Linked DNA regions of Homo sapiens: all the other regions are linked to region 1. The links come from fine-mapping of genetic effects on gene expression. A gene starts in region 1. Each other region holds a variant in brackets. All regions are shown on one strand. Distances are from middle to middle. Region 1 holds the start of PIWIL2 (piwi like RNA-mediated gene silencing 2). Region 2 overlaps RHOBTB2 (Rho related BTB domain containing 2). Region 3 holds the start of LINC03093 (long intergenic non-protein coding RNA 3093).

The links.
Region 2: its variant is fine-mapped to the expression of PIWIL2 in cerebral cortex (GTEx, PIP above 0.99).
Region 3: its variant is fine-mapped to the expression of PIWIL2 in tibial artery (GTEx, PIP 0.96).

What each region holds. Positions count from the first base shown.
Region 1 is chr8:22,270,961-22,278,255 of GRCh38, forward strand. PIWIL2 (piwi like RNA-mediated gene silencing 2) reads left to right here and starts at 4,356. Exons shown (of 23, transcript NM_018068.5): 1 at 4,356-4,438. It overlaps PIWIL2-DT (PIWIL2 divergent transcript), which reads right to left and starts at 4,202. Exons shown (of 2, transcript NR_134293.1): 1 at 4,019-4,202. RefSeq lists an enhancer at 4,636-5,281.
Region 2 is chr8:23,009,122-23,016,416 of GRCh38, forward strand. It overlaps RHOBTB2 (Rho related BTB domain containing 2), which reads left to right. Exons shown (of 10, transcript NM_015178.3): 7 at 1,417-1,567; 8 at 5,569-5,657; 9 at 6,517-6,622. Among named protein-coding and RNA genes, the nearest start is that of RHOBTB2-AS1, 13 kb to the left of the region's middle. RefSeq lists enhancers at 1-137, 5,206-5,970, 5,472-5,521. The variant G/C (reference allele first, on the strand shown) is at 3,601.
Region 3 is chr8:21,294,185-21,301,479 of GRCh38, forward strand. It overlaps LINC03093 (long intergenic non-protein coding RNA 3093), which reads left to right and starts at 4,055. Exons shown (of 3, transcript NR_104677.1): 1 at 4,055-4,223. The variant T/C (reference allele first, on the strand shown) is at 3,604.

The sequences.
Region 1 (7,295 bases):
TAATTTTTTGTATTTTTAGTAGAGATGGGTTTTCATCATGTTGGCCAGGCTGCTTTCGAACTCCTGACCTCAGGCGATCCACCCGCCTTGGCCTCCCAAAGTGCAGGGATTACAGGCATGAGCCACCGCACCCGGCCGGGATTACAGGCATGAGCCACCGTGCCCGGCCTCCTTTTTTTTTTTAACGCATCCCCATTGTTAAGCATACAAATTTCTGTTTATTCATTTACCAGTTGATGGACATTTAGGTGAAGTTTTTGGCAATTATCAATAATGCTGCTATGAACATTTGCATGCAAGTTTTGTGTGGACATGTTTTCATTTTTCTTAGGTAGCTACCAAGAAGTGAAATTTTGGTTCCTACAGTAATTTTTTTCTTAACTTTTTGAGAAACTGCCAAATGTTTCCCAAAGAGGCTGCATCATTTTACATTCCCACTGGCAATGTCTGAGGGTTCCTGTTCCACCACATCCTTGCTGACTTCTGTTATTCTATTAGTCAGACAGGCCTGCCATAACAAATTGCCACAGACTGGGTGGCCTCAGCAACACACATTTGTTTTCTCACAGCTCTGGAGACTATGATTCTATGATCAAGGTGCTGGCAAATTTGATTTCTGGTGAGTACCATCTCCCTAGTTTATAGATGGCCGCCATCTTGCTGTGTCCTCACATGGCCTTGTCTCTGTGCTTCCATGAAGAGAGAGGGATAGAGATAGAGAAAGATCTCATGTCTTTCTCTTCTGATAAGGACACAAATCCTATCAGATTAGAGCTCCTCCTTACCTCATTTATGTTAATTATCTCCCTACATACTTTATCTCCAAATACAGGGGATTAGGGCTTCAACATAGGTTTTGCAAGGAGGACACAATTCACTCCCTAACATTCCTCCCTCTGTCCCCCGCAAATTCATGTTCTTCTCACATGCAACACATTCGCCCCATCCTAACAGCCCCCAAAGTCTTACACCGTTTCAGTATCAATTGCAAGTCTAAGATCTCATCTAAATACAATAGGCCCTCCCTATCCACGGGTTCTGCATCCATGGATTAAACCAACCACAAATCAAAAATATTTGGAAAAAACAAAAAGGATGGCTGCATCAGTACTGAACAGGTGCAGACTTTTTTCTTGTAATTATTCCCTAAACAATACAGTGTAACAACTATTTATGTAGCATTTACACTGTATTTGGTATTATAATTCATCTAGAGACAATTTAAAGTATACAGGGAAATGTGCATAGGTTATATGCAAATATAAAATACACCATTTTATATAAGAGACTTGAGCATCTGTGAATTTTGGTATCCATGGAGGGAGGTCCTAAAAACCAATACTCTGCAGATACTGAAGGACAAATTCCATTAAATTTTACGGCTCCAGTCAGGGGTGGTGGCTCACACCCATAAGCCACTGAGTTCAAGACCAGCCTGGGCAATATGGTGAAACCCTGTCTCTACTAAAGGGCTTATTAGTTCCAACAAGAGCTGGTTGTTAAAAAGAACCTAGCGCTTCCCTCCCCTCTCTTGCTTCCTCTCTCTCCATGTAATCTCTGCACAGGCCGGGTCTCTTTGCCTTCTGCCATGAGTGGAAGCACCCTGAGGTCCTCACCAGGTGTCCAGTCTTGAACCTTCCAGCCAGCATAACCATGAGCTCGATAAACCTCTTTTCTTTATAAATTACCCAGCCTCAGGTATTCCTTTATAGTAACACTAAAGGGACTAATGGACTGACACAGGTCCACTCACATCTTTTGGCCCCCCCCCCTTTTTTTTTGAGAGAGAGTTTTGCACTTGTTGCCCAGGCTGGAGTGCAGTGGCGTGATCTCAGCTCACTGTAACCTCCGCCTCCCGGGTTCAAGTGATTCTCCTGCCTCAGCCTCACGAGTAGCTGGGATTACAGGCACCACACCAACATGCCTGGCTAATTTTTATGTTTTTAGTAGAGACAGCATTTCACCATGTTGGCCAGGCTGGTCTCGAACTCCTGACCTCAGGCCATCTGCCCACATTGGCCTCCTAAAGTGCTGGGATTACAGATGTGAGCCACCATACCTTTTGCCCATTTTTTTATTAGATTGTGTGTCCTCCTGTTATTCGGCCTGATGTGTTTCGTGAGCTCATATTTATTCATACCTTTTACGTGGGAGTTTTGGGAGCCTGGTGTATTTCTCCTGAAAGGATTTCTAGTTATCTCTGCCAGGAACCCAGACATACTACATAGGTCTACTTTAAATGAAATCCTTCCTATAGGTTTTAGGCCCCACCAGTAATGTAATTTTCTGCCCTTAATCTTGCTGTGGCTCTGGGGATCTTATTTTCTGAACAGCAGCAACAACAACAACAACAAACCAGAATACATGGTTGGAATAGAAATATTTATGGTGACCAAGTGCCCAGGGTATTTGGAGTCATGACTGCCTAGGAAAATTCAGGTTATGTATAGTTATGGGGCCATTTTCACTCTGAATTTTAGAGACTGGCAGGGCCAGGTGGACAGAATTTGGTGTTACGACTTTTTTGAGTTAAAAAAAAAATCTGTGATTTATCTCAAAATACTATCTCTTAGTGTGATATACGTGCTCTTTTTGCCCCTTTCATTTTTAATTAACAAATAGCAATTACATATGGTTATGTGGTACAGTATGATATTCTGATATTTATTTACATTGTGGAATGATTAAACCAAATTAACATATCCATCACCTCACATACTCATCTTTTTGTGATGAGATTATGTGTGTCCTTTTTAATCAATATCCTAGGGATGGCTAATTAACAATTAAAGTACTCTGTTAGGGAATATAATCTCCAAAAGAGGTTGATTAGCTTTTGAAAGGTCCTAAATAGATGTCCACGTTTCAGAAAGCTTCAACCATTTTTATGTCCAATCAACAGCAGGACTATATGGATTTTCCTTTGGTTAAATAAGTAGTGTTAATGATGTCTGGATTAGCTAGAAATACTGTACGAAGGCCACCTACACTTGCATGGATGGACAGGATATAGAAATCTAGGAAACCCAATGTGCATACCCTTTGTAATGGTGCTCTTGGTTTAGGTTCCCAAATAGAAGACATACTCAGGAAATTATCTGAGGATTATTATTCCCTTACTTCAACTAGAAGATTTGCTGAATCCTGCCCCCAAAATATTGTTTCATGTGTATAGAATAAGTGTGTCATGCAAAGTTTGGTCGGAGTTCCTAAAAGAACAAGGAGTTGGATCTTCACGAAAGTTACAAAACAGTTTGTATAACTGTTTTTGACTGCACTTGCTACCATTAAGTATTTGCACAGGCAGGAGAATTGCTTACAACATAACATTGCAACAGCTGCAAGTTAAGAAGGTTGTGTGGTAAAGGAAGTGAAAATGTTAGATCATGGTAAACAAATACTATCTAGGAACAGTGAAGGGGCATCGTGCCAACTGGATTCCTGAGTTGAAAATCATCCTGCTCCAATAATTTTCAGACTATCCTCATTCGGGAAGGATAGGGAGGGCCCTTGTATGTGTGGATTAAAATAAGTCATGGGATATCTGAGGCCTGGAAAAAATAAGGTTAACCCTTCTCTAGTCCTATTCCATGCAGAGCCCTTGGATGTCTCTATAGCATCCGCCAAAGCCTTCAGAAGCTTTACCTCAACCACACTGTAAAACCTGGGTGTGGGAGAGGGATGCAGTTATTTGACAAAATGGTTGGGAGAGGGTCAGAAATCTTTCTTTGGGTAAAATCATTCTGTAGTTGCTGAAGTAACCACTGATAATTTAATCTGCTTCCTAGAAAGCTCTTCTTGGCTCACAGATTTAGGCATCAATAAAAATAGGCAACATTTATCGAGGGTCGTCTTCTCCTTGTGCTAAGTATTTTACATACGTTATGTCATTATGTGTGTACATTTCCATTCAACCCTATGAATGGATGTTTTTAGTTTTTATCTCTGTTTTATGTATAACGAAAGTGATGTGCAGAAATCATATGAATTAGGTGTTTGAATGCGCACTCGAGCTTACCGTTTCTTTTTCACCACCTGTATCGCTAATCCTCTTAACTGGCAGGAATGGGGCAAGTCAATTTCAACACGCGAGTCTTAGGCTAAATCTGTTTATAGGAGTTGCCCCCAGAAAGGGAGTCAGGATCTCCAAACCCTAACACATTTTAACGCTGAGGTTCACATAACTCCCAGCGCTCCTTCCGCACGAACCGCCCCTGCACAGGGAACCTGCTGGAAAGGACGAGCCTCTCTTGCAGATGGGCCAATTAGATAGCTTGCTCTTGTGAACGACAGGTCTTGTGGCCAATGGGCTCATCCCCGGAGGCCTCGAAGAGCGGAAATTGGCCCTGGAGCATGTGGGCCCCGGGGCGTGGGTTGAGCTCGGTCTTCCCCTGAGGCCGCGCGGAGCTGGGCGACTGGGGCGAGGACTCGCGCACAGGTGAGTACTGGCCCCGGTTGCGGCATGCCAGGCAGGCCAGGGTCGCTCGGGGGCGGGCAGGTTGGGTTTTTGCTCAAGCACGTGGGGTGAGCCGCCCTCCCGGGCCTCTCCCCTCCCACTTCGGGGAGCTGCTGAGGGTTGCGGGTCGGGCGGGGGCGGGAAGTCGTTATTCGAGGCCCGGCGCCGCGGCCCCAAGAAGGTGTCCAGGTTGGGGCGGCAGGGGAGGCCCTCCGGAGGCCCAAGTGGACGTCTTATTTGGCCTGAGAGAGGAGATAGAACCCCTGGCAGGGCTGTGGCTTTGGGGAAAGGTGCTTTTCTCGGGGTGGAAAGGGGATGGGACTCGCCTTCGGGGGCCTTGCTTCTGGTTAGGCCCGAGTCGCGAGGCCTCAGCGCGGAGCACGCACCCAGGGATGCGAGGGAGGCAGGCCCAGCCCGTCCTGGGTTCGCTCCCCATTGAACCTTTCGGACAGCCAAGTATCTGCTACCTGATCCCAGGGGGAAACCCACACTGGGAGAGGGCCCTCTGGGGGAGCTACCTGAATCTATAGAAGTGGTGCTGGAGGTTGAGGGAAGCGTGGACAAAGAGGAAGATTCCAGATGTCCCTTAAGGGAGGCCGTCCAGCGCTTCTGAGTATGTAGCTGTTAGCATACTGATTGCTTGGGATTCTTTGGGTGGTGTTGGGGAGGTGTGAGCAGAGTCCTGGCTCACCGAAAAGGGGTGTTAGCAGTTAAATATAGCCTTCAAGAAAGGGAGTCATATCCTGCGTTTAGAGTGTGAAAGAGGATAGTTTAGTTCAATAAATTTTGCAAGTTCCTGAACTGTCTGCACTTACGCTGTGGGTTTATGAATTGTGTGTTAATATTTTCTTTAAATGTATGATTTCTCTGTAGCTAATACTTAAGACAGCTTTTTTGTTTGTTTGTTTGTTTGTTTTGAGACGGAGTCTCGCTCCGTAGCGCAGGCTGGAGTGCAGTGGCGTGATCTCTGCTCACTGCAACCTCCGCCTCCCAGGTTCAAGCGATTCTCCTGCCTCTGCCTCCCGAGTAGCTGGGATTACAGGCGCAGGCCACCATGCCCAGCTAATTTTTGTATTTTTAGTAGAGATGAGGGTTCACCATTTTGGTCAGGCTGGTCTCGAACCCCTGACCTTGTGATCTGCCCACCTTGGCCTTCCAGAGTGCTGGGATTACAGGCGCGAGCCACCACCCCCGGCCAAGACAGCTTTTTGAAAGTTAAGAAGAGGCTTCTCCCAGCATTTGGGGAGTCTGAGGTGAGAGGATCACTTGAGGTCAGCAGTTTGAGACCAGCCTGGGCAACATGGCAAGATCCCGTCTCTACAAATTTTTTTTAAAAATTAGCTGGGTATGGTGGCAGGTGCCTGAAGTCCTAGCTACTTGGGAGGCTGAGACAAGAGGACTGCTTGAGCACAGGAGGTTGAGACTGCAGTGAGCTAAGATGCCACCACTTCACTGTAGCCTGGATGACAGAACAAGACCCTGTCTCTTAAAAAAAAAAAATTCTTTTCCGTTAAGAAATATTTTTCAGGAATCAGGGGCAAGTCAGGACAATGAGAGGAGCCCCTTAAAGAGGGAGTCTTGAAATCTGTAGGTTATAAAGTGATATATATATATATATTTTTTTTTTTGAGACAGAATCTTGTGCTGTCACCCAGGCTGGAGTGCCACGATCTTGACTCACTGCAACCTCCGCCTCCTGGGTTCAAGCAATTCTTGTGCCTCAGACTCCTGAGGAGGGGGGATTACAGGCATGCACCACCATGCCTGGCTAATTTTTGTATTTTTAGTAAAGACAGGGTTTCATCATGTTTGCCACGCTGCTCTTGAGCTCCTGATCTCAAGTGATCCACCCGCCTCGGCCTCCCAAAGTGCTGTGATTACAGGCATGGGCCACCATGCCCGACCTACAGGTTATGAAGTGATTTTGAAGAGACCTGATGGGCTTTAGATTTGGTAGGGAAGCCAGGGAGAGCCTCACCCCGGGTAACCTGGGAGAGAGAAGGGTGTTAAATGCAACCTGTGAGACTGAGCAAGTATTGTAGGCTCAAAGCAGAAAGACTGTGTACTCTGGAGACTTCTGATGGAGTTTGAAAGAAGAGAGTTTTTAAAATTTTTTTTTCTATTTTTTAATTATTTGTAGAGACAGGGTCTCGTTGTGTTCCTAAGACTGGCCTCAAACTCCTGGCCTCAATGGTCCTCCCACCTGGGCCTCCCAGAGTGCTGGGATTACAGGCATGAACCACTGTGTGTGTGTGCTCAGCCTGAAGGAAGAATTTTGTAAAAAAGAATTGGATAGAGATTCGGAGAAGCAGCTAAACAGATCAAGGAAGAGAATTTGGTGCAATCATAGACTGGAAAAAAGTTAGGACTCTTATGTAGGAAAGAGAGGCCAAAAACAAAGCAAAAACCCATAAATATTTGTTGACAATAATTTTATGATATGGCTGTGTTAACTATGAAATTGTTTATAGGCCAGGCACAGTGGCTCACACCTGTAATCCCAGCACTTTGGGAGGCCCAGGTGGGCTGATCGCCTGAGGTCGGGAGTTCGAGACCAGCCTGACCAACATAGAGAAACCCCGTCTCTATTAAAAATACAAAATTAGCCGAGCATGGTGCTGCATGCCTGTAATCCCAGCTACTCGGGACGCTGAGGCAGGAGAATCACTTGAACCCAGGAGGCAGAGGTTGCGGTGAGCCAAGATTGCACCATTGCACTCCAGCCTTGGCAATAAGAGTGAAACTCCGTCTAAAAAAAAAAGGGGGGGAGGAAAAGAAATTGTTTATAAACCAAAGTCATCCTCATACATAAAAACTGCCTTAGCCAGGTGCAGTGGCT
Region 2 (7,295 bases), 740 kb after region 1:
GACCTGCCTGGGAAACACAGACACCATCTCTACAGAAAAAAAGAAAAAAAGAGAGAGAGAGAGAAAAGAAGGAAGGGAGGGAGGGAGGGAGGAAGGGAAGGAAAAGCATACTTAATAGAACCACCTGCCTCTCTAATCAGTGACCCTCTAGCTCTCACGATGCCACCACTTTCTCACTCACCTAGATTGGAAACTTAGGGTTGGAAGAAGCCTATCAATGTGTCCTTAGAAATATTCTCTTAGGTTTGGTCTCTTTTCCATTCCAAGCAGAGTAGCCTGGGCAGTAGCCCTTGGTGTGCTCTGAACTCCTGGACCTCAATTGCCCATCACTGAGTGTCGTCGAACCTTGTAGTTAACGAGGTTCGACTTTGTGCAGGCGCGTGGAGTTCTGAACGTCCACACCGTTTCCCCTACTGTTCTGTAACTGCTTCTGAGCGCAGGGACTGGGTCTTTTTCCTTCTGCCAAAAACCCTCTCAGCGCCAGTCTCTTGGGAAATGCTCACCAAATGCTTGAATGAAAAACAGAACCAAGCACGAGGCTGGGCTGCATCGCATCCCGTGATGTGGAATGTGCATTTTCTAAGATTTCTGGGAAGGAAGTACTTAAGGAAGGCTAAGTGGAAGCGTTGGGAGTTGGTCTCTGAAGTGGGAGTAGGATTTGGATATACAAAATGTGAGACTAGGAGCTCTCACAAGCCCCAGGGGCCTGCCAGCCCCGGGCACTTCTCGGTACTGTAGACGCCAGCTTTAAACTTCTAGCCAGTTCCCAGCACAGCCTGGAGAGCCTGATGAGAAGGCAGTTTGTGTTGCAGCGCTGCTCTCAAGAGATCCTGGAGGCCCAAAGCAGCAGCTCTGAGCAGACAGAAAGAAATCAGCTGCTGTGGGCCTTACTTATTCTGTATCCCACTTCTGTTCTGTGCAGGGATGGGAGGGACTGAGGTGTAGATTGAGGTGACCAGAAGGCCTCCTTCAAGCATCCCGCGAGCAAGAGCGGCTTCCAAAGGGTGCCAGTGAGTAGTATCTGGGTCCCTTTGGAAGAGTTTAGAAGCTGGACGCCATGGCTTGTGCCTATAGTCCCAGCTACTGAGGAGGCTGAGGCAGGAGGAATGCTTAAGACCAGGAGTTCAAGACCATCCTGGATGGCATAACAAGACGCTGTTTCTAAAAATAAACACATAAATGATAGTAGAGGCCTGTACTCTGGTGCTGTCAGCAAACTGGGGCTCAGCACAGGTTGTCGCTCTAGGGGTCAGGTGTTCTCAGGGTCTTCTCAGCAGATACACATGCAGCACAGGGAAGGCTGCCCGTCTGGGGGAGCCTGGGTGTGAGGGCCAGAGCTCTTCAATTTCTCAGGGTTCAGTTCATCTTCTCCTAAGCAGGATCTCATTGCTGTCCGCTCACTCCTTCCCTCCCCAGGTGGTGTTTCCCTACACAAGCAAGAGCTGCATGCGGGCCGTGCTGGAATACCTCTACACCGGCATGTTCACCTCCAGCCCCGACCTGGATGACATGAAGCTCATCATTCTAGCCAACCGCCTCTGCCTGCCACACCTGGTTGCCCTCACAGGTAACTAAGCAGTGCACTCGGGGACCTCCCCGCGGCAGAGGCCAGGGAAACCCCAAGGTGCAATGTTCTCCTCTCACGTCTCTCCTGGGGGACAAGCTGATGTCCAAGGGACTAAGCGTACATGAAATGGAATCTGTTGACGGGCACAGAGTTCTGGATGAGGACACAGAGTGAAGAAGGGTGGTGCGGGGCATGTTTGATGGGGTCACCTGAGAGGCTCTCTCCAAAGGCGATTTAAACCCAACAAAATGGAACATGAGGCTGGGCACAGAGGCTCACACCTATAATCCCAGCACTTTGGGAGGCCAAGGCGGGAGGATCACTTGAGGCCAGGAGTTTAAGACCAGCCTAGCCAACATGGTCTTACCCGTCATGGCAAACTGCCATGAAACCCGTCTCTACTAAAAATATAAAAATTAGCTGTGTTTGGTGGCAGGCGCCTGTAATCCCAGCTACTCGGGAGGCTGAGGCAAGAGAATTGCTTGAACCCGGGAGGTGGAGTTTGCAGTGAGCTGAGTTTGCACCACTGCACTCCAGCCTGGGTGACAGAGTGAAACTGTGTCTCAAAAACAAACAAACAAAAAATGGAACATGACAGTGCTTTATGTTCTTTGCTTGGCTTCACTTGGACAAGCTTAAGAAGTCAAAAAATAATAGAACACAATTCCCACATTTCTACCCTGTGGTTCTCCTCCTTCTTCCTTTCCTTTTATTTTTCTTCTTTTGCCTTTTTTCTTCTTCCCCTACCTTTGACATCACCTTCTCATCCTCTTTCCAGAAACAGCACACAAACATCCCTGCCACTCCTTAGTCCCTGCACGGATTGTACGAGCCGGAGCTCAGCTTTTAGTGTGGACAAATCCCAGGGGCTCTCTGAGTTGGAACAAGAACTGAGTCATGGGGGAGAGCCAGCGGCAGGCAGTCTGGGTCCAAGGGGCCAGGGAAGAGAAGTGGTGCTCGTGGGGTGAAGGGAGCCTGGGGCCAGAGACCCAGGCAGGCAGACGGCTCTCGTTCATGTTGGAGTTGGCACTTGAGTTGCTAGTGGTGGCGGCAGGGGTACCAGCGCTGGTGTTGATGCCGAGGTTAATATTCTTGCATAGGTCGGGGACAGAGAGCACATCCTCACATACTGAGTTGAGATTCAGGGAAGAACCCAGTGTCAGAGCTGCTGGGGTCCAGGCAGATGATCAAGATCGGGGCTCAGATATGAGGGAAAACAGCAATCCGTGAGGAAAAATGAATGATAAGGTGGGGCTGGGTTACAGAAAGAAGGCAGAAATCATTGATCAGAACCAGAATATTAAGAGCGGAGGCTGCAGTGGGAGTCCAGGGTCCCCAGAAGGGGATAAAGGGAACTTTGGGGCAGGTAGCAAGAGAGGCATCTAAAGATCCCAGCTACAACAGTATATCTTGTTTTGCTGTCCATAAAAAAATGGTGTGATCTTCCCAGAGCACATAAAACTTCAAATTCCTAGATGGAATAATTCCACTTTTAAAAGACTATCTCCAGAGAAATGACCCAAAGGGGAAAAATGCATAAAGGTATTTCTAGAAGTTCATTTCGTCATGGCAGGCAATTGAAAGCAAGTCACAGAAAAACCGTTGGTGAAGCACACACAGGCAGTTTTCACATGGTAGTCATTAAAAATGTTAAACTAGACTGCTGCATGGAAAGGCTTATTGAAAATAATGTTAAGTAACTTTTCATGAAATTATCGATACACACTAGGGAACATCCACAAAAATGTTTATATCTGCCTTGTTAAGGATCAGGGGAAGATGCCAAGTTTTATATAATTGGCGATGGTTTAAGTTTTGTGACATATGCTTCCTATGAGGCCATTAATTCAAGTTGAAAACTTTTATTGCTCAGTAGAACACAAATACATAAAAGCATATTAAACATATGTTCAGGTTACTGAATTACTATTGTTATTATGTTTTTTTAGAGACAGGATCTTGCTCTGTCACGCAGACTGGAGTGCAATGGCCTGATCATAGTTCACTGCAGCCTCAAATTCCTGGGCTCAAGC[G/C]ATCCTCCCAACTCAGCTTCCCAAGTACCTTGGACTATGGGCCTGCCTCATCACACCCAGCTAATTTTTAAATTTATTTTTATTTATTTATTTATTTATTGACATAGAGTCTCACTTGGTCTCTCAGGCTGGAGTGCAGTGGTGCAATCCTGGCTCACTGCACCCTCTGCCTCCTGGGTTCAAGCGATTCTCCTGCCTGAGCCTCCTGAGTAGCTGGGACTACAGGCATACACCACCACACCCAGCTAATTTTTGTAATTTGAGATGGGGTTTTGCCATGTTGGCCAGGCTGGTCTTGAACTCCTGACCTCAAGTGATCCACCCACCTTGGCCTCCCAAAGTGCTGGGATTACAGGCGTGAGCCACCACACCCGGCCTAATTTTTAAATTTTTTGCAGAGATGAGGTCTCACTGTGTTGCCTGGACTGGTCTTAAACTCCAGCCTCAAGTGATCCTCCCATCTCGGCTTCCCAAAGTGCTGTGATTACAGGCGTGGGCCACCAAGCCTGGCCTAGTTTAATGAATTATTATAAAGAAAATGCCTTTCTACTCATGACCTATGTCAGGAACTAGAACCTTGCTGGCCACCAGAAGTCCTCCACCTCTCCCTCCTCTCTCACAGACCCCTCTCTCCTCCCTAAGAGGAAGCCCTTTGCCTAGTATTCCTTTTTTTATGGCACTTTTTATGGGCATACTGCCTTACTTTCCTTTATAGTTTTATCATCCAAGTGTGTGTCATTAAACACTACAGCATGGTTTTTTGCATTATTTTTTACTTTTATTTTTTATTTTTGGAGATGGAGTCTTACTGTCACCTGGGCTGGAGTATAGTGATGTGATCTCGGCTCACTGAAACTTTCACCTCCCAGGTTCAGGAGATTCTCATGCCTCAGTCGCCCGAGTAGCTGGGATTACAGGCACGTACCAACACACCCGGCTAATTTTTGTATTTTTAGTAGAGACAGGGTTTCACCATGTTGGCCAGGCTGGTCTTGAACTCCTGGCCTCAAGTGATCCACCCGCCTTGGCCTCCCAAAGTGCTGGGAGTATAGGCGTGAGCCACCGTGCCCGGCCAGTTGTTTGTTTTTGAAGTATTATTATGGCCCCTTAGATTTGAACATTCTTGATTGGTTTCAGTTAATTGCAGTTATCCTTGCTGAAGCTCAAATCCTGCACTCTTTGGCTTGACTCCAGAGTCTTACGAGCTTCCTCTCTATCTGGAATGATGAGATGTTCTAGGTTCCTCTTGAAGGTTCTGTGCCCCAGACCTGGAATCAGCCATTTCTCCAGGAAGTCCTAGTTTCTTGTGTTGGAAGTGGAACTGGTATTTGTGTGCACTAGGAATGCTCATTGTACTGGGATGACTGTTGTTTCTAGGTCTTTTCTGGGGGCAGAGCTGGGAAATATATTGATCTTTTTAAAGATAAGATACCTCATGAGTTTATACTGATACTTCTAATTAAAATTCAGAACCAAGGGTGTTTACTTCTTCAATATAAGTGTTTTAACTTAAAATACAAGGTTAGTACACAATTTTTTACAAAATTTAAATTAAAACAAACAACTAGACTTAACTCCTAGTTCTAACTCACAGTTCTCAGCCTTTTTCTGTGATCAGCAGACATGAGGTTTCACACACTCTCCCTTTTGTATCAGAGGCTGGTTCTGTTGGGAACTTTGACCCTACCTGTATCAGATTATGTCACGGGACATACGTAGTTTGAAAAATCCTCTTAGGTAATTCCAATGTCCTCCTTCTCTTCCTACCCTACCCCGTTGAGCTCTTGCTGTCATCCCTGGGGTCCCCCTGGTGGCAGCAGACGTCATAGCCTGGGGCCTTTCCTGGCCTGTCCGGACCTGCCCGGGCCCTGGTTTTCCTCACCCTGAAGTGAGCTGGGGGATGTGGTGGGGCAGGGTGAGCACAGGTCATGTGCTTCTTCAGCTGATTGGTGGCCGTGTGTGTTACAGAGCAGTACACAGTGACCGGGCTGATGGAAGCGACCCAGATGATGGTGGACATCGATGGGGACGTCCTTGTGTTCCTGGAACTGGCTCAGGTATCATGGCAGGGGAGGGAATCTACAACAGTCTCAGTTCTACACTCTGCCTGCCCATTGGCTGCGAATGGGAAGGGGTGGAAGATGGTCTATGCGGGAGAACCTGTCATCGGACTGGGCTCTTTGACTGCGCGTAGCCCATCTCCTCCTCCATGCCAGGAAGCAGCTGGGGAACTCCCTGGTGTACCCGGAGGGGAGCTGACCAAGTGGGGAAGGGATGAGGCTTTAGGCAGCAGTAGGGCTGGGGAGGGAACCCCAGGCTCAGGCTTACACATGGTTGCTGCCTGCCTGAGGTCATTTAAGGGGCACTGAGGACTTTCCATCTGAAATTAACCGCCTACTCCCTTAATCCCAAACAAACAAGCCAAATCTCCCACAGTGGCCTTCACAGTGCCAGAAATTCAGCCACCAAAGATTAGTGTGTGGAGTGGAAGCACGGCTCAGGCAGGGCTTGCAGACACCCCTGGGAAGGCAGCTCCCTTAGCTCATTGTCAGTGCCTCCGTGCAGGCTGCCTTGATCCCAGATGTGGAGGAGAGAGAAGTCAGGTAGGTTGAGATCTGAGGAGGGCAGATGCAGTATGAAGCCACTACATAGGGCTCTGGTGTCTGCAGCGAGGATGCCAGGAGTGGGCAGAACAGAGGTGAGATGATGGTGGTGCTGGCGGTGGTGCCAAGGAGCCTGAGGCAGCATCATCATCCTCAGTTTTGTGTGGCCTTGCCTCTGGCGCAGGCTCTCTAGAACTGCAGGGCCTCTGCGTGCCCTGCACCAGAGCTTCAGCTCTGAAGGCAGCTGGAGGTGTCTATGCAGACCCTCTCCCCTGGGGATTTCAGTACAGACGTTCTTCCCTTCTGTCCCCAGTTCCACTGTGCGTACCAGCTGGCCGACTGGTGTCTCCACCACATCTGCACCAACTACAACAACGTGTGCCGCAAGTTCCCCCGAGACATGAAGGCCATGTCCCCAGGTGAGCATCGGGGCCAGTCCTGGCAGTACCTGCTGCCCTCCCCTTAGGGGTGCACAGCTCCCATGTAATCCCAGGGACCCCGAGGCTGCCAGTAATCCTTGACCTTGGGGCTGGGAGCAGCCTGCAAAGGAGCCTCCAGCCAAGCCAAGGGGCCCCAGGAAAAGTGCTGGCCTGGAGGGCAACTCACCCTGCCTCTCTGGGCTTCTCATTCTCAGAGGTATGAAGAGGATACTGGACTAAAGTTGGTAGATTTCAGACTTTTCTGGACAGAATACCGTAAGAAATACATTTCATCTTGTGACCCAGGACACATATAGGAAAATATATACATCTTTCTAATGCTGCTCATGGCCCACTAAATTGATGGTACAACCCAGGAATGGGTACAGGCCACAGCTTGGACCACCCAGGTCTGGGCATCCTCTGAGGCCTCCTGTCTCTTCTTGATTAATTTCTTAGGCCCTAGAACTCAACAGAAACTGCACAGGCTCCAGGGAGAGGTGTCCCTGGCCTCCCTGAAGGGTCTGCCACTCTTTCCATGGGGTCCTCTCTGGGCTCCCTCCAGTCTGCCGTGACCCTCCTCCCTGCTGCCGTGTTTTTGCCTCATGCTGCCAAGTCTCCACCCCGATCTCTCCTTTTCACTACTACAACACTTTTAAAAAAAAATTATTTA
Region 3 (7,295 bases), 980 kb before region 1:
CATATTGCCTGTTATTAAAACACTTAAAGTATAATAAATATATATATATATAGAAGAAGAATATGCAATCGAAAAAATAAAACACAATCCACATGTAGAGGTGACTACATTACAGCCATGTGGCCTAAACAGATTCTGACGATAGGCACGGATAATAAAGAGTGGCATGGCTTTTCAATCTTTTGTTGGTAGTTTTTTTTGTTTGTTTTTTTTTTTTTGAGATGGAGTCTTGCTCTGTCTCCCAGGCTGGAGTGCGGTGGTGCGATCTTGACTCATTGCAACCTCCATCTCCTGGGTTCAAGCAATTCTCCCACCTCAACCTCCTGAGTAGCTGGGATTACAATTATATGCCACCATGCCCAGCTAATTTTTGAATTTTTAGTAGAGACGGATATTTTGCCATGTTGGCCACAATGGTCTCGAACTCCTGACCTCAAGTCATCTGCCTGCCTCAGCCTCCCAAAGTGCTGAGATTACTGGCGTGAGCAACTTGTCCCCAGCAAGTACTTTTTTGTTTTTGACTATAAAATACAGCTTTGTCTAAGTTGTAACTGATTTTTAAAACATATACACTAAACCTAGTGCTTAACAAATGAAGAGATAAGTATAATTTGATGTTCTTTTCACTGATTTCTGTTATTATCACAGCATAATCTAACTATCATTTCATCACTGGGCTTCAAATTAGTTATAAACATATTCCTCTTGACAACATGGAAGACGCAATGTAGGCACTGAAAATGCATACATTTGTTGCCCTGAACGATTGTAAAAGGCAACACTAGAAGCCTGCAGAGGGTCTGAAAGGAGAGGCTAAGGAAAGAGGGAGGCACATACAGGCCAGAATAGAATAAATATTTAAGAAACTTGCAAACTACATGTGTGTGTGTTGGGGAGGGCTGATCAATAAAGATTTTATAGAAAAGCTACCATTTGGGGCGAGCCTTACCGGACCCTTGGGACGCCAACAGGCGGAGATGAAGAAGTGTGTTCCAGGTGGGGATAGCCGCTGCCCCAGTGCCTGGGGGCATCCAGGTTCCTCCTGCTGGGCTCTGCACAGCTTCCTGCTGCCGCCCTCCTCTGCCCTGGCCCAAGGTGGGGAGGGGCGGCAATTAAAGGCTGCGACCTGGGTGCTCCCCTGGCCCCTCTCTGCTGTCTTCGTGTTGCCCCCCATTCCCTGGCCTGGTGTTCACCTGCCCTCTCTCACTCTCCTTTTTTTCACCTTCTCACTCCCCTACTCATCATTTTTCTCCTTCTCCCTCCCCCCACTCTTCCTCCTTCTCTTCCCCGTTTCTTTCCTTCTTTCCCTCTCCTCTCTCCTGTGTCTCTTTCCTTCCTCACTTTTTCTCTCTCCCTCCCCTCTCCCCCCGGCTCTTTCTCTCCTCTTTCCCCTATCCCTTCTCTTTCCCTTTTTCTCCCGGTTTTTCCCCCTTCTTTCTTTCCTTTCCCTCTCCTCCTCCCTCTCCTAATCCCCTTTCTCTCATCTCTCCTCTGGGTCTCTCCCCAGTCTATCTCCTTCTCTCCCTTTCTCCCTGCTCTCTATTTCCCTCTCTCTCTACCCGCTTTCTTTCCCCCGCTCCTCTCTCCCTCTCTCCTTTGTATCTCTCCCCGCTCCTTTCTCTCCTTCTCTCTCCTCTAATTTCTCCTTTCTCTCCCCTCTTTCTTTCCCTGTCTGTATCTCCCCCCTTTTTCTCTCCTCTCCCTTTTTCCCTCCACTTTATTTCCCTTTCTCTTCCCCCCTTCTTTCCCCCTCTCTCCCTCCCTCTCCCTTCTCTCTGTCTCCCTCTCCCTCTTCCCCTCTTTCCCTCTCCCCCCAGCTCTCACTCTCCCTCTCCCCCCAGCTCTCACTCTCCCTCTCCCTCCCTCCCTCATCTCACCCAGCCTGGATTCTTCATGACCGATTTTTTTAATTATTTGGGAAAAAATGTTTCCTCTTTATGAACAAGAGAGAAAAGCATTTCTCCTCCCCAACAGATTAACTATTTGAAATGCACATAAACTGTAAGTTTCTCTCAGCAGAGAAACTGGTCCCTAGAAACTGATATTTTCCCCCTAAATTTTCTTACGGCACCAGAACTTTGTCTATACTTATTTACCATAAAAACAACATTGTGCACTCTAAAAGTCAAGACAGGATAAACACCAAAACTCTCACCTGTAATATCACCTTAAACCTAACGTACTCTTCCCAGCCTAACAAAATCATTAGCAATTCTTGGATTCCCTCCAAGTCTTCACTCATGCACTGACTTCACGTAGCTGTAATTGTTAGCAAAACTGATTTCACGAAGAGCATCTATTCCTACAAACTCAGGTTTCAAGCATTTTAAGATGAACTCAGTATAACAAGATGAACCCAAGTGACACCAATTTTGAGATTTTTTTTTTTTGAAACCTGGAAATTCAAACTGCAGTGGGCTGACTTGGAGCTGCTTCACCTGGACAGGGTGTTGTGCCCCTATTTAGGCTAGAAAACCCTACCTTTGGGTAATTTGATGATTGGTTGTATTGGAGCTCAGAGCTTGCAGGTGGGAGTAAGCTTCTCTTGAAACAAGGGAAAGGTCAATCCTGGGACTGGGAGGGGTTGAAAGGCCAGTCTTGGTCAGCTGTGAGCAAAAGAACTTCCTCCTCTCTCTAGGCTGAGGGGTAGAAATTGGGCCAGTATCTCCACACCCCGACAACTTCCAAATGCCGCTCTGGCCACAGGGAGGCAGGAAGTATCCCTGGTGTGGGACAGTCCTGGGAGGGTCCCAGGATGGCTCTGGGCCTATTTTGTGCTTACAAATTATTCTCCATACTCTTCTTCCTTCCATTATCCGTAGACTTCCCCCTCAAACCCCGAAACGGAGTCTCACTCTGTTGCCCAGGCTGGAGTGCAGTGCCGTGGTCTCGACTCACTGCAACCTCCGCCTCCCAGGTTCAAGCGATTCTTGTGCAATAGCCTCTGAGTAGCTGGAATTACAGGAGTGCACAACCACTCCCGGCTATTGTTTGTATTTTTAATAGAGGCAGGGTTTCACCACGTTGGCCAGGCTTGTCTCAATCTCCCAACCTCAGGTGATCTGCCCAACTCCTCGGCCTCGCAAAGTGCTGAGACTGTAGGCGTGAGCCACCGCGCTGGGCCTATCCTCAGGCTTTTACTAAAGACACTTAAAGGTTACAGCCTGGTCTTTCTTATTTGAGTTAGTTTCCAATGACTGCTGAACAGATTCACAAACTTGTCTTAACACAACAGAAATTTGTTATCTCGCAGTGCTGGAGGCCAAAAGCTAAAATCAAGATGTCGGCAGGACTGTGCTTATTACAACGGCTTGGGGAGAATCCTTCTTTCTGTCTCCCGCTTTAGGCCCCTGTGTTCTTGGCTTGTGGCAGCATCACTCTACGCTGTCTGTCTCCACGTGGCCTTGCCTCCGTGCCTGTTTTCCCTCTTCTTCTCCTATGTGAACACCGTCACTGGAATTAGAGTGCACCCTGGTAATCTAGGATGATCTCATCTTGAGATGCTTAATTTCATTACTTTGCAAGGATCCTATTTCCAAAGGTCACACTCACAGATTCCAGTCGGACATGATTTTTTTTGAGGCAGGTCCATTCAACGTGCTA[T/C]CATTGTGGTGTGGGAAATTCAAGACAGAAACTGCACCACCTTGGAGACAAACTGGACTAGTGGAGAGCAGTGTTCCTTCCCCTACAGCCAGAGCTGGGGGAACAACTCGGCACAGTGGAGGTCTCACAAGGCACCAGGAGTAAAGCAATAGGCAAGGCTATGACAGCACACCCGAATCCCAGGACCCGGGGATAAGTCGTATCTTAGGAATATCTGCCCATGAAGGCAGTGGGCCGCAGGATCCCACTTTGAGGTGCCAGTGCTGATTGTCATTCCTTCCAAGATGGTAAACCATTAGGACATCTGGATCCCTCCCTAAGATCAACCCTGGAGGAGCTGCAGAGGAGAAACAGGGCACAAGAGGACCAGAGAGGGCTGTGGGGAGCGGGGAAGAAGAAAACGAACCGTTAAAGTTCTGTTGCTCCCTCTCCCCCAGCATCCTCCTGGGACATACAGCGATGGCCCCCACACCTGGAAGGACTCAAGCTCTGAATCCAGCACCTTCAGGAAGCAAGTGATGGCATCCCAGAGGCCCTATGCTTGAGACAGACTGACGAAAACAGGTGGATCTAGGTAAAATCAGTCTCTGCTACCCTCCTCATCTAAACCCTCAGTGCAGGTGAGTCAGGATGCAAATGTAAGGAGGGTTCCCTCCTGATACTGCTTCTCCCCAGCGTAAGGACAGAAGAAGGTGACAGGGTGACTTGAGGAGTTATTTAGGGGCCGGGGTGGAGGTGTCACTCCAGCTCTCTGGTGCTGGACAGTCCTCCCCAGGCATATCTTCTCCATTACATCCACACTAAGCTCACAGGGACTCACAGTTACAGGGTCTATTTCCCTGAATACTCATTTCCTTACAAAATACCCAGTATCTCTGTTGGTGAGGGAAAGGCATGTATGTCAAAATAAAAAGACATTGTAAGGCCCAATCATTTCAAAACAAAAACATGTTAGGTTATTGTGTGCACTGGAAGTAAAATAATTAGAAGCAAAATAATTAGAAAGCCAATCATTTTAAATTAGCCAAAAAAACTTAAAAGGAGGTTGCAAAGAATAATTTTCAAACAGTTAAAGATATGACTCTCATACAAATCATAGTGAAATGTATTTTAACTCAGATTTAACTCCAAAAGAATGCTAAAGTTGGTTCAAATGAGAATTTGAAAGATGGGGTATATATGTATAGTCAATGGAAGACAGATTACTAGAATATGATTGCTAAATCAGACACCAAATCAGTTAATGTCTTACAGAGCAAAAGAAAACAAAAATAAAACCTTTAAGGTATTCTTTTCTACTAGACAGAAATTAGTTTTTATGTATCAATTATTGACAGATTAACCTGTAGCTTCACACAATATGAGCCCTAAGCAGTTATAAGGAATAAGTCAAAAGCAATTATCCTAAGAGTTAGATAATCTTTGAACGGAACTAAACAATGCTCCAGTATGACACTAAAAGGACTTGCGCTTTTCCTTTGCCTTAGTTCCAAGTTTCAGACAATTTTTCTTAAGAGAGATAAAAGAGGCCAGGCCCAGTGGCTCACGCCTGTAATCCCAGCACTTCAGGCAACTGAGGTGGGCAGATCACTTGAGGCCAGGAGTTTGAGACCACCCTGGCTAACATGGTGAAATCCTGTCTCTACTAAAAGTACAAAAAATGAGCCTGGTGTGTTGGTGTGTGCCTGCAATCCCAGCTACTCGAGAGGCTTAGGCAGGAGAATCATGTGAACCTGGGAGGTGGATGTTGCAGTGAGCCGAGATTGCACCACTGCACTCCAGCCCAGGCCACAGTGCAAGACTCGGTCCCACAAAAGAAAAAAAGAGAGAGAGATAAAAGAAGATAGGAGATAGCAGACTGAATGAATGAAGAATGAAAAGGCAAACTAATAGAAAATATAAAAGAAGTTAAGAGAAATGGAGAATAGAAGTTAAAGTGCTGAAATTTCAATTAAAAAGAAGTACCAGAAAGAGAGAGAAACAAATAGAAAAGAGAAAATATTTGAATATTTGAATAGTGAGCTATATTTTCTAAAATTGTCTTTTAAATAAAGATCTCAGATAAAAAAAAATCCATAAAGGAAGAGATAAGGAAAAGCCCACATTCAGACATACTATTAAAAAGTTTAAGGATATATCCCTAATTATATATGTGGAAATTATAAAAATTTACAAAGGAAAAGAGCATATAGCATTCAAAAAACAAAAATCTAAAAACAAGAAACAGATTTTATAAAAAGCAACACTGAATCCAAGATGATAATAGAGTAATAATTTCGAAGTATTCAGAAAAATAACCATAACATTTAGAATATTATATTTGGCCAGAGTCCTTTGAATATGATGGCATGACAAATAATATTCTAGGCAGGCAAAGGCTCAGATAAATGACTGTAGAAAGACCCACACTGAAAACAGTTCTGAACAAACTTCCTAAATAAAGGAGAGAAAATTCCAGATGTTGCAAAAGAGGAGTGAAGTAAGGTGATGAAATCTTTTGTAAGCAGAAAATACAGGACAGATTGAAATATCAAAATTTTATAAATAGGCCCAAATATGTAAATAATTAAAATGTATTTTAGACAATTATTAAACAAAAATTGGCAGGTTGAATTTTTTCAATACTGGCATCTGTTGTCTAAAACAGAAATTCTAAAGAAAAAAATGGTTGAAAAAGAATGGAAAAATGTATCAGGAAAAATCTAAAGAAAGATTATATAGATATTTTAATATGATTTAAACAAGATTACTAGAAAAAAGTTATTAGTGATGAGAGCTATTTCATAGTGATTAAAAGTTTTGATACACCAAAACCATTTAGCAATTCTTAAAACTTTATTGCTTTAATATTCTCAAAGTATACAAAGAAAAAGTGATAAAACTGCTAAAAAGTTTTTGATTAAATCACCATTATGGTAGGAAATTTCAACATACCTCTCTACTTGATAGGTGAAATAACGGAAGATTATCCAGAATAAAGATAATATGTACAACACAAAGAACTTGACTTAATGGACATATGTAGTGTCTTCAACAACTTTATAATGTACATTTTCAAGCTTATATAAAATATTTATAAAATTATGAGTAATAGAGTAATAATTTCAAAGTATTCAGAAAAATAACCATAAAATTTTGAGTATTATATTTAGCCAAAGAGTCTTTTGAATATGAGGGCATGACACTCCCTAATTATATATGTGGAAATTATAAAAATTTACAAACGAAATTTGTAAATTTCCTAGGCACACATGAAAACCCTCAACAAATTTCAAACTGTATCATACAGACCTGGGTTTCTGATCGTAGCTTATTTATGTTAAATATAAACAAAAAAAATAAATTTCCCGAAATTTGAAAATTCAGAAATGCATTGTGCTTAGTTAATAAGTTAAAGAAGAAATTGTAGTAAAAATTATGTCTTATGTAAGTTTTTATATTTTTATCTTTTAATTGTAAATTGACAAATTATAGTTGTGTGTATCTATGGGGTACAAAATGATGTTATTATTTATGAATACCATGTGCAATAATTAAATCAATCTAATTAACATGTACCTATCACCTGAAGTAGAGTCATGTACCACATAGTGATGTTTAGGTCAATAAAGGACCAAACATATGACGGTGGTCCCATAAGTTTATAATACTATATTTTTTCTGTACCTTTTGTATGTTAAGATATGCTTAGA